2 separate regions of the Homo sapiens genome follow, and region 2 is linked to region 1. The links come from fine-mapping of genetic effects on gene expression. A gene starts in region 1. The other region holds a variant in brackets. All regions are shown on one strand. Distances are between the middles of the regions.

Region 1 (5,389 bases):
CTGGCATTATAAGCGTTGAGCCACTGTGCCTGGCCTGTTTTTTTATTTTTTTTTTTTTGAGAGCAATTATATGGTTTTAAGCAAAGGAAAGACACAATCTGACTTCTGTTTCAAAGGATTACCCTGGTTGCTATGTTGAAAAAAGACTTTAGGGGCAAGGTGAAAACGGAAACCTGTTAGGAGTCTATTGCAATAATCCAGGTGAAAGCTGATGGTGGCTCAAACCAGAAAGGTGGTCAGGCTCTGGATATATTTTGAAAGTACAGGCAACAAGACTTCCTGATGGCTGAAAAGGGTATGTAAGACAGTCAAAGTATTTAAATAAAATATGTGTAATCTTTAATTGAGATAAGGAAGACTATAGATGGTGCAGCATTGGGAGGGGAAGTCAGAAGTTCAGTTTTGGACATGTGAAATTTGAGATGTCTATTACTGGAAATATTAAACAGCAATTGGTTATACCAGTTTGGAGTTCAGGGGAAAGGCCAGGGCTGTAGATAGATATTTGGAATTTGTCAGCACATGGATGATATCTAACACTATGAGTTAAGGAGGACACCAAAGTAACAAATATACCCAGAGAAGAAAAGAGGTCCAAGGACTGAGCTTGCGGCACTCCAAGCAAGATTAAAAGGTTGGGTTTTGAGGAAGAACCAATAAGGATGCTGATAAATGGCCAGTGAGGCTGGAGGGAAACCATGAGAGCATGATATGGGGAAGCCAAGGAAAGAAAGTTTTTCCAGGAGGAGGGAATGATCAACTGTAACAAGTACTGCTGATTGACCAAGTAAAATTAGTATTGACAGCTGTTTGCTGGATTTACCAATGACTTTGACATGAGCAATTTCTGTGGTATGGTGGAAATGAAAAAGTCTGATTGGAATAAATTTGATAAAGAATGGGAAAAAAGGGCATTAGCAACAGAAATTATAGACAATCCTTTTGAGTTTTTCTGTAAAGAGAGCAGAGAAATGGATTGTTAGCTGGTGTGGGAGAGGAGATTAAGAGATTTTAAGATGAGAGAAATAATGGCATATTTATTTGCTATTGAGACTATTCAGTGGAGAGGAGAAAATTGAAGATTGTAAGAGTCAGGAAATAATTGGTGGATATATATATATATATATATATATATATATTTTTTTTTTTTTGAGACAGTTTTGCTCTGTTGTTCAGGCTGGAGTGCAGTGGCATGATCTTGGCTCACTACAACCTCTGCCTCCCAGGTTCAAGCAATTCTCCTGCCTCAGCCTCCCAAGTAGCTGGGACTACAGGTGTGCACCACCACACCTGGCTAATTTTTTGTATTTTTAGTAGAGATGAGGTTTTGCCATATTGGCCAGGCTGATCTTGATCTCCTGACCTTGTGATTCACCTGCCTCAGCCTCCCAAAGGGCTGGGATTACAGGCGTGAGCCACCGCGACTGGCCGGTGGAGCTATATTCTTGGGTAAGCAAGAAGAGATGGGCTCTGTTGTCCATTTGAGGGCTGGCCTTACATAGGATTATACAGTTCACCTACTATAGTTGGAAAGAAAGCAGAATCTGGCATATAGATGTTGGTAGATTGGTAGGTGGACATCTGTGGAACTTCGTTTCTGGATGCTTTTATTTATCTCATTTGAATAGTATTTAATATTAAATACTAAATACTATTAAAATCATAAATCTTTATGAAATATTAGCAGTAACTATTTCACTTCAGCCGAAAATGAAGATGAGGAATAAGTTCTGGAGATTTGAAGAGAGGAGGAATTGTCTTAGTCCATTATGGCCACGATAACAAAATACCTTAGACCAGGTAATTTATAAACAAGAGGCCAGGTGTGGTGGCTTAACAAACTGCCCAAATGAGGCAGCAAGAGTGCACCTAATTTTAATATCAGTTATACAAAATGCCAAACATACAAAATGGTTATCACAGGGAAAAATTAACAGCACATCACAAGTGTGCTCCAAAGGATTTTTCCTGGAGCACCTTTCTTTCTACAGGAATACCTGTTTTACAAAGTAAGGCACATAGTTTTGTATCCTAACCATTAGGCTCAAGGCAAGTAGTGGTCTTTGTCTTTTTACATTTTTATGATTGTGACACTTAATAAATTGCTGAGCTTCAATTAGGTCTGAACATAATGGGGTCCTAAAAAGCAAACACACAGGCCCCTGTATGTCCTTTTGACAGCTGCTCATGAAAATCTACCTTTTTCATAATTTGGATAAACTGAAGGCCACTTTGATTTTATGTTGCAAATGACAGAAATCTAAGAATTGAGCCTGAATTTTAGAAAACTGTGAAAATCAATTCCGGACAACTGAGTCTAACACGCAAAAATCTTGTTTTTTTTTTTTTTTTTTTTTTGAGACGGAGTCTTGCCCTGTCACCCAGGCTGGAGTGCAGTGGTGCGATCTCGCTCACTGCAACCTCCGCCTCCTGGGTTCAAGCGATTCTCCTGCCCCAGCCTCTCGAGTAGCTGGGATTACAGGTGCGCGCCTCCATGCCCAGCTAATTTTTGCATTTTTAGTAGAGACGGGGTTTCACCATGTTGGTACGCTGGTCTCAAACTTCTGACCTCGTGATCCGCCCACCTCGGCCTCCCAAAGTGCTGGGATTAGTGGCATGAGCCACCGCGCCAGGCCTACAAATCTTGTATCTTCTTAACCACTTCCGGCTTCCTGCAAACCTCGCTCTAGGGAGCCAGAAGCGCGGAAAAGGTTTGCGGGGTCTGCGGTTGCGCAGAAGCCCAGCGACTGCAGAACCCTGCCCCAGGCACCCTGGGCGCTCTGCCCTACCGGCGGCGCCTCTCACTGCTCACGGAACGTTCTGGAAGTTTGGGAAACCCTGAGCGGTCTCTGAGGACCTGGTGAGCAGGTGGGTTTGCAGCGCTGGGGATGAGGCCTCGGCAGACCTGTCTCTTCGCGTTTTTCTTTCTTCGTTCTTCGCCGGCGTAGTGCTCTCTGACTTGCCGAGCTCAGAGCTTTACCTCAGGGCTTTGGCGGGTGAGGGGAGGAGATCCTGCCCACCCTATTTTCCCCTTGAGAATCGGTGTGGAAAGGGCTCCCTCGGGGTTTTCCCTGTCAGAAGTCCGTCACCCACCTGCGAGTGTAAATTTTATTTGCTTTAGGCTTTGTTGGTCACTCCGAAAAGTAAAGAATGGAAGAGACCGTGAAGATCCTTGTAGGCCGGCGCCTCACTGGACCCGTGAGGAGACTGAGCAGGGAAAGTGACTTGCTGGAGATGATGGGGCAGTGTTAAACTTAAATTTGCAAACACTCCAGAGCTTGGAAAAAACAAAACAGTAGCAACAAAAGCCCAGAATACCAGGGCCTTGGAACTGGCAAAGGTTTAAGAGGCCACTGGGCCCACGCTTTTTGTTTTTATTTTTAATTTAACTTTTATGTTAGGTTCAGGAGTCCGTGTGCAGGTGTGTTACATAGGTTAAACTCGTGTCACGGGAGTTTGTTGTCCAGATTCTGTCGTCCCCCAGGTGCCCATTAGTGACTGTCCCTCCTCCACCTTCTGGTCCCCCGGTCCCGTCCCCCGCGCCTGCCCCTCCCCTCTGTCCCTGCACGCTCAGCGTTCACCTCCCGTTTAGAAGCTTTTTGTTTTCAGGTGAGGATGCAGCCTAACCAGAGGTGACGTGATTTGCCCAAAGCCACACAGTCCTTGCTTGGCTGCTGGTCGAGGAGCTTTTCCCCAGAAATGCTGAGAAGGCACTGCCCCAGCCCCAGGTTTCTGATTCATTCCTCACCTTTAACAGGGACTTGGGACACGACTGACCCCACTCCTTTCTCACTTATTGTGCACGTGATTACTTTACTTCTCTTAGCTTTAGTTAAATTGTTTTTAAAACCTATGTATAAGGGTGTAAAGATTTAAATGAACATTTATGGATTACTAACTGATAGGCACAAACATACATATCCACATACATACCAGTAACTACTCCAAAAAGTTCTTGTAACCTTTGCATATATGTATTCATAGCTATGTGGGTGTATTAGTAAGTATGTGTAGGGGGGGTTATAGAAGTTGAAGCCCTTCCCCCAGCCAACTCACCATTTACTCATTCACAAATCTTTGAGTGTCTACTGAGTGCCAGGTGCTGAGTAAGGTAAAACAGAATCAGAATGTGTCCCTGCTCTCATGGAGCTAGTTAACTTCTCATTCATTCATTCATGCAATAAATGAGGAAATTAGAGAGCAGCTGGTTTCAACTCAGCAGGAAGAACTTTCTAATTATTAAAGTTGTTGAAAAGTAGAATGAAATCACCTTGGGAGATACTAACTTACCATCACTGAAAGTGACTTTCTCTTTCTTTTTTTTTTTTTTTTTTTTTTTTTAAGACAGAGTCTCGCTCTATCACCCACGCTGGAGTGCAGGAATGGGATCTCAGGTCACTGCAACCTCCACCTCCTGGGTGTGCAGCCACACCTAAGGAATGGGGAGTTATATTCCCCACCCCCACTGTTTAATATTTTTAGAGACAGGGTCTTGCTATGTTGCCCAGGCTGGAGTACAGTTGTTATTTACAGGTGCAAACATAATGCACTGCAGCCTCAAACTCTTGGCCTTAAGCAATCCTCCTGCTTCAGTCTCCCGAGTAGCTTGAATTATAGGTGTGTGCCACTGTGCCCAGCTCCATGCTCCTGTTCTTAAGGTTGGAGTATATATACATAAATTTTTTGGAATTATTCTGCACAGATTTGTCTCTTCTCCATTTATTGGTTTGTTCAAACCTTTATATCAGTATAGACTCATGGATATTCACTTTATACTTTGGATTATAATGCTATTTTATTTTGCTCAAATTGTTCCAGCTTTAGCCATTGGGAGCTCTTTCAGTTGGTTCCTGTGCTCTTATGACATGCCCCATCAATGCCATCTGTGTGGGGTTTTTTTGTTTGTTTGTTTTTGTTTTTAAGTACTTTCTTTTTGGCACTACTCTGGACTCATCTTGTATGTTTCCTGTCCCAGTCCTAGAATCGACCATTTCTCCAAGGAGCCCTGGTTCCTTTTTTGGAGAATGCTATTTAGAAACCAAAATCTGGGTGCTAGGTGTACTTGTTGCTAGCACCCAGGTGCTAGGGTGTCGTTTGTTTTAGGCCCTTTCAGCTAACAGAGTAAAGAAATAGATGTGTGTGTACTAATCTGGGTATATACACATACAGTCATGCATTGCTTAATGATGGGGATGTGTTCTGAGAAATGCATCATTAGGTGATTTTGTCATTGTGAGAACATCATAGAGTGTAATTACACAAACTTAGATGGTGTAGTCTACTAGACATCTAGGCTATATGGTATAGCCTATTGCTCCTGGGCTACAAATATGTATAGTATGTTAATGTACTGAATACTGTAGGCAACCTGCATATCTAAACATATCTA
Region 2 (5,341 bases), 71 kb after region 1:
CCAAATTGCTTTTAAAATAAAATTTACTTAAATATGGAGCTATTTTGAAAATATTTATCACAGGGCATGGAATTTCCACTCTAGGAGTTTTAAGGAAATAATTTGAAAAGTATGCAAAAATTTAATTACTAGGTTACTTATCATAGACTTAACAGTTAAAAAAAGAAAACTTGGAGTTGTCCTACAATAATGGAAAATTAGAAACAATCCAAATGTTGAACTATATGGCACAGGTGAAATACATTATACTAAGTCCATACCATGGAACACTATTAAGCCAATGGAAAAATATTCATAATATACTGTTGAAGAGGAAAAAGGTAGATTACAAGATTATATATATATATAAAATCTTTGAAAAATTTATATATATGTATTATTATAAATAAGTATATAAGAAAAAAGCCTGGAGGATGTTAATATTTATCTTTGGATAATAAAATTATTGCTGTTTTATTTTCCATCTTTTGTTTATGTGTGTTCTACAAAAAATACACATTTCTTTATTAATGAATGTATCAATTTACATGTGCAGTACTGAGAATATAGTGGGATAACATTTAAGATTATAGCAGATTAAATTAGCTGTACTTACTATTATTTCTGATGCAAAATACCTGAAAGGATCATTTCCACCTTCTTCAGACTGTTCAAAGAATTGTGCTGTCAGCAAAGGGCATTTCAAGCTTTTGAAACAACTAAGGCATAAGAAATAGGTAACTATGAAATCAACACTTCCAAGTATAAAATCCCTAGGTCTTCAAATCTAAGTTAATTTTACTTGAAAAATAACATAAGCACTGCTATGGTTTGAATGACTCTGCTCTCCAAAACTCATGTTGAAATTTAACTGCCATAAGGAGGTGGGAATTAGGCCAAGGGGGCTCCACTCTCACGGATGAGATTAATGCTGTTATAAAAGGGCAAGTTCAGCCCACTTTTGCCTTTTGCCCTTTTACCTTCAGCCACATTATGACACAGCTAGAAGGCCCTTGCCAGATGCCAGCGCCTTAATTGCAGACTTCCCAGCCTCCAGAACTGTGAACCAATGAATTTCTGTTCATTATAAATCACCCAGTCTTAGGTATTCTGTTATATCAGCACAAATGGATTAAGACAAGCATCAATAACTCAATGGTCTATAAAACTGGTGATGTAACGTCGTTCGTACTAGTAATGGGGAGAACATGAGAACACCTTGCTAGACTCAACATGCTAAGACTGACTTCTACATCTGAACTATTCCATTGAATTCTGAATGTTTGAGGGCTGGTGCTAGTCTATGATGTTGTTTTCATTAGTTCAAAGAAAAAATCAAGAAATACAGTCATTTTTTCACACAGCTCTATTTGTTTTATTTAGAAAACCAAACTTTATTCTGTGATTAAGCCTTTCCTATTTCTTTAGTTAAAATACCTTTTCTTTTATGAAATAATGGGTTTTATAAATGGTAAAAAACTTTTTTTTTGAGACAGGGTGTCTGTCACCCAGGCTGGAGTACAGTGGCACAATAATAGTGCACTGTAACCTCAAACTCCTGGGCTCAAAGGATCCTCCTGCCACAGCCTCCCAAGTAGCTGGGACTACAGGCACACACCACTGTGCCCAGCTAACTTTTTTATTTTTTGTAGAGACAGGGTCTCACTATGTTGCCTAGGCTGGTCTCAAACTCCTGAGCTCAAGCAATCTCCCAGCTTGACCTCCCAAAGTGTTAGGATTACAGGTGCGAGCCACCACGTCTGGCTGTAAATTTTTTTTTAAATGTCCTAACCTGACAAGTAGGAAGCTAAAAATAGTATTAGTCTCCAAAATTAAAATATTATTTTATATTCTATTTTTTAGAGACGAGGTCTTGCTATGTTGCCCAGGCTGGTCTTGTACTCCTGGCCTCAAGTGATCCTCCTGCCTCAGCCTCCCAAGTAGCCAAAATTTAAAAATTACTGGTCCATGTAATTAATCTAGTCTATCACTGTCCAATAGAAATATAACACAGCCCCATATATAATTTAAGATCTTTTAGTAGACACATGAAAAAAGTAGTAAGAATGGGAGAGATGATTTTAATAATTTATCTTAACCCAGTATATCTGAAATATTGTCATTTCAACATGTTATCAATATAAAAATTGAGGTATTTTACTGTTTTTTTTTTTTAAATAACAAGTCTTCAAAATCCAGGGGATATTTTATAATTAAAGTATATCTGAATTTGGACCAGCCATATGTCAAGTGCTACAGCCATATTGAACAGTAGATGTTTAGTCTATAGTACCCATGGAGGGAATGCTATTGGGTGGATACTCTACCACTATTTTTGTGGTCCAGTTGGATGTTCTGTCTGGTGGTCTTTCTGCTGCTTCCTTTGAAAGAGTAAAACACAATTTCTCCACAGAGCTACCTATATCTATTTCCCACACTCACCCTGAGCTACATGTATCTATTTCCCCCACTTTCATTATTCACCTACTATGATGAATAAGGCAATACAAAGAAGAATATAAAGTAAATGAATGGATTTTGGTTTTATAATTATTTTATTAATTAATTTCTTAAAGACAGGGTCTTGCTCTGTTGCCCAGACTGGAGTACAGTGGCCAATCATCATTCACTGCAGCCTCACACTCCTGGATTCAACCCATCCTCTAGCCTCAGCTTCCCAAGCAGTAGCACTACAGGTATATGCCACTACATCTAGCTAATTTTTAAATTTTTTTATAGAGATGGGGGTCTCACTATGTTGCCAAGGCTCGTCTCAAACTCCTGGCCCCAAGCAATCCTCTCACTTCAGTCTCCCAAAGTGATGGGATTACATGTGTGAGCCACTACACCC[G/A]GCCTATAATTTTTTAAAATATAAATGTCTCAAGTTCCCATGCTGTATCAACTGAACCCCACATTCTTCTAAAATTCAAAATCTGAAACTAGATTTCTATTTACATGTCAAACAAAGTGAAGAAACATAAAATAACTGAACTATCAATTACTTAAGTCCACTGTGAGATGTTCTTAAAATTATACTTACAATTTCAGTAATTCATCCTTTAACTTTTCATTTTCCAGTGAGTTTTCTTTGTTATCAATGACTTCTTCCACAAAAGGCTTAGTGAACTCTATTAAGGCCTTGCAACACTGACAAAGGCCATAGTCATCCATTTGTATTTGTTCTTTTGAGTATGGAACAGGAAGAAGAGATAGCTGATTCCAAAGGGTAGACAATGCTAATCCAATTGAATATGCCTTGTTATGAAGTTTCTGAATCACTAAAACAGAGATCAAGTTGTCGCTCATCAAGTATGCTAAACATGGGACAAGAAATTCGGCAAATGTGGAATTATAAGACACTTCCTCCTCCCACATTTTAACAACTCTTGAATCAAGATGACACATCACAGTCTAATTGGCAGTGTTTTTTTCTTCTTAGTTGTGCATAAAATAATACAGCATCTTGCCATGAAATGCTGTTTAGGTTATGTTTATAACAGACTATGTGTAACAGGCTATGTACTTAAGACAGAAACATGTTCTTTCCATGTTTTTGGGTTGTTATAAGCACAAAATATAAGTGTATTGTAAACTATAAAGCACTACACAAATAGGAGGTGGTATTATTAGATTTTTTTTCCCTAGAAGACTGAATATTACAGGTAGTATGAAGCTGGCAGGCATTCATATTTAAAACAAATTTAATTTCTGATTCTAGGTCCCTCTATCAGATTGTGAGATAAACGAATTTCCTAAAATGAAAAATAACCTCTTCCTATGGATACTGTCTGCCTTGGTTGCTAAGACCCATTACCTACCAATACTGTTACTGCACTCAGCCATGGAGCCTTATCATCCCATATCTCCTCGTTTCATTCTTCAGTAGTAGCTTTGCTATGCCCAATCCAACCTCCCAAAGCAGAGGCTGAGCAATGCCTTGCCTGATACTCTTCCAGACTACCATAATGCTATCAGATTTAGTACTGCAGACACCACAGAGGTAACCCTTGAAACATGTTTAGAGAGAAAATTCTAGATTTAAGCAGCAGATAGGAAGGTTAGGCAAAAAGGTATAGTTTTCAATATAGCACATGAAAAATAGTATGACATTCAACAGAATATTTACTGGGTACCCACTCTGGCCAGATACTATAATCTTTCTATGAGCAGCAGTATTCACATTGGCATTGCTATTATTGGTTTAAGCAGAGTACTCACTAATTAGCTGTAAACTTTACTTTGGTGTAGTATTGACATTTTGAGGTAACCATCAAGGCATTTAGAGATACAACAAGAAGTACTCTGATATCAAAATTCTCATTACCTGTTTGTAATGGCTGAAGCAAAAGAAGAATACTTTGGGATATCTGTTTTCCAGAGGGCTCTTCAATCAGTTCAAGCAAACCCAACAATAATTCCTTTGGATTGCATAACTATAAAAATATTCACAATTGAACCTGTTTAATACAAGTTGTATTTAAAGCCACATTATTACTATTTTTAAGAAGGCATGTATCGACAAAATATTATACAATTATGTTTTTGCTTAACATTAAAATTATTTATACAATTGTTGAAAAAATATGCATGAGCAAAACACAGAATCTGTGATGGTCAAGTAACTATAAAACTAAAAAGCAAGAAGTCAATGGATCTTTAGGCTCAGGTTTCCTTTGAGCTTCACCTGTCCACTCTGAAATTGCCTTAACAGATTCTCAGGGGCTCCAGCAGGTGGGACCTTTCAATCCCATGCTGCAAGCCTATTTAGACTAGTCTGGAATCTCTTTTGTATTTTTTGAACAGGTAAAACTTTGCATTGCTTTCTGACTGGCCATATCTTATCATCTCACTTGACTGGTTTTTTAAAAGCTCCCAGCTCCCATAGTCAATAACTCATACAGATGGAGCTCTCCTTCCAATATATATTTGGGTATATTTGCACTGATCACTAAACAGTTTCTTATAATATACTTTTTCTCAGAATTTATCTTTCTTGGCCATCAAATATTGACTGTAAACTCTACTAGCCTTTTACCCAGGGTCGCTTTCTAAGGTTGTTAGTCACAACTGATCTGTATTCTACCCTATTCCTACTTCAATTTTAATCACTTGTATTCTAGGCCTTCCATTTTCTTTTAGGGAACATACCACAAAGGAAAGAGGACTGAGATTTTAATCTAGTTCCAATGTTGCCAAAAGATAAATGTGACCTTGAACTACCTCTCTAAAGCTTGTATTCCACATCTATACGATAAGGCTACTTGTTAAGATATAGCTTCCCAGGTCTCTCCCTGGAGATGCTGAATCAATGGGTCCGATATGAGGTTAATATGAGGTTAGACAATTCTTTTATCCAGAAAAT

Which allele goes with the higher level. Alleles are on the strand shown, and positions count from the first base shown. SD is a standard deviation of normalised expression in the study named.
For the expression in visceral fat of the gene that starts at base 2,735 in region 1, allele A in region 2 goes with a lower level than allele G (moderate effect, 0.55 SD a copy in GTEx).

Evidence for each region. PIP is the estimated chance that this variant, and not a neighbour inherited with it, causes the effect. A credible set is the group of variants that fine-mapping cannot tell apart.
Region 2: its variant is the best candidate, but not a certain one, in a credible set for the expression of C1orf146 in visceral fat (GTEx, PIP 0.90).

The regions. Positions count from the first base shown.
Region 1 is chr1:92,215,181-92,220,569 of GRCh38, forward strand. It overlaps C1orf146 (chromosome 1 open reading frame 146), which reads left to right and starts at 2,735. Exons shown (of 6, transcript NM_001012425.2): 1 at 2,735-2,868.
Region 2 is chr1:92,285,895-92,291,235 of GRCh38, forward strand. GLMN (glomulin, FKBP associated protein) reads right to left here. Exons shown (of 19, transcript NM_053274.3): 5 at 4,304-4,412; 6 at 3,020-3,257; 7 at 596-698. Among named protein-coding and RNA genes, the nearest start is that of GLMN, 10 kb to the right of the region's middle. The variant G/A (reference allele first, on the strand shown) is at 2,831.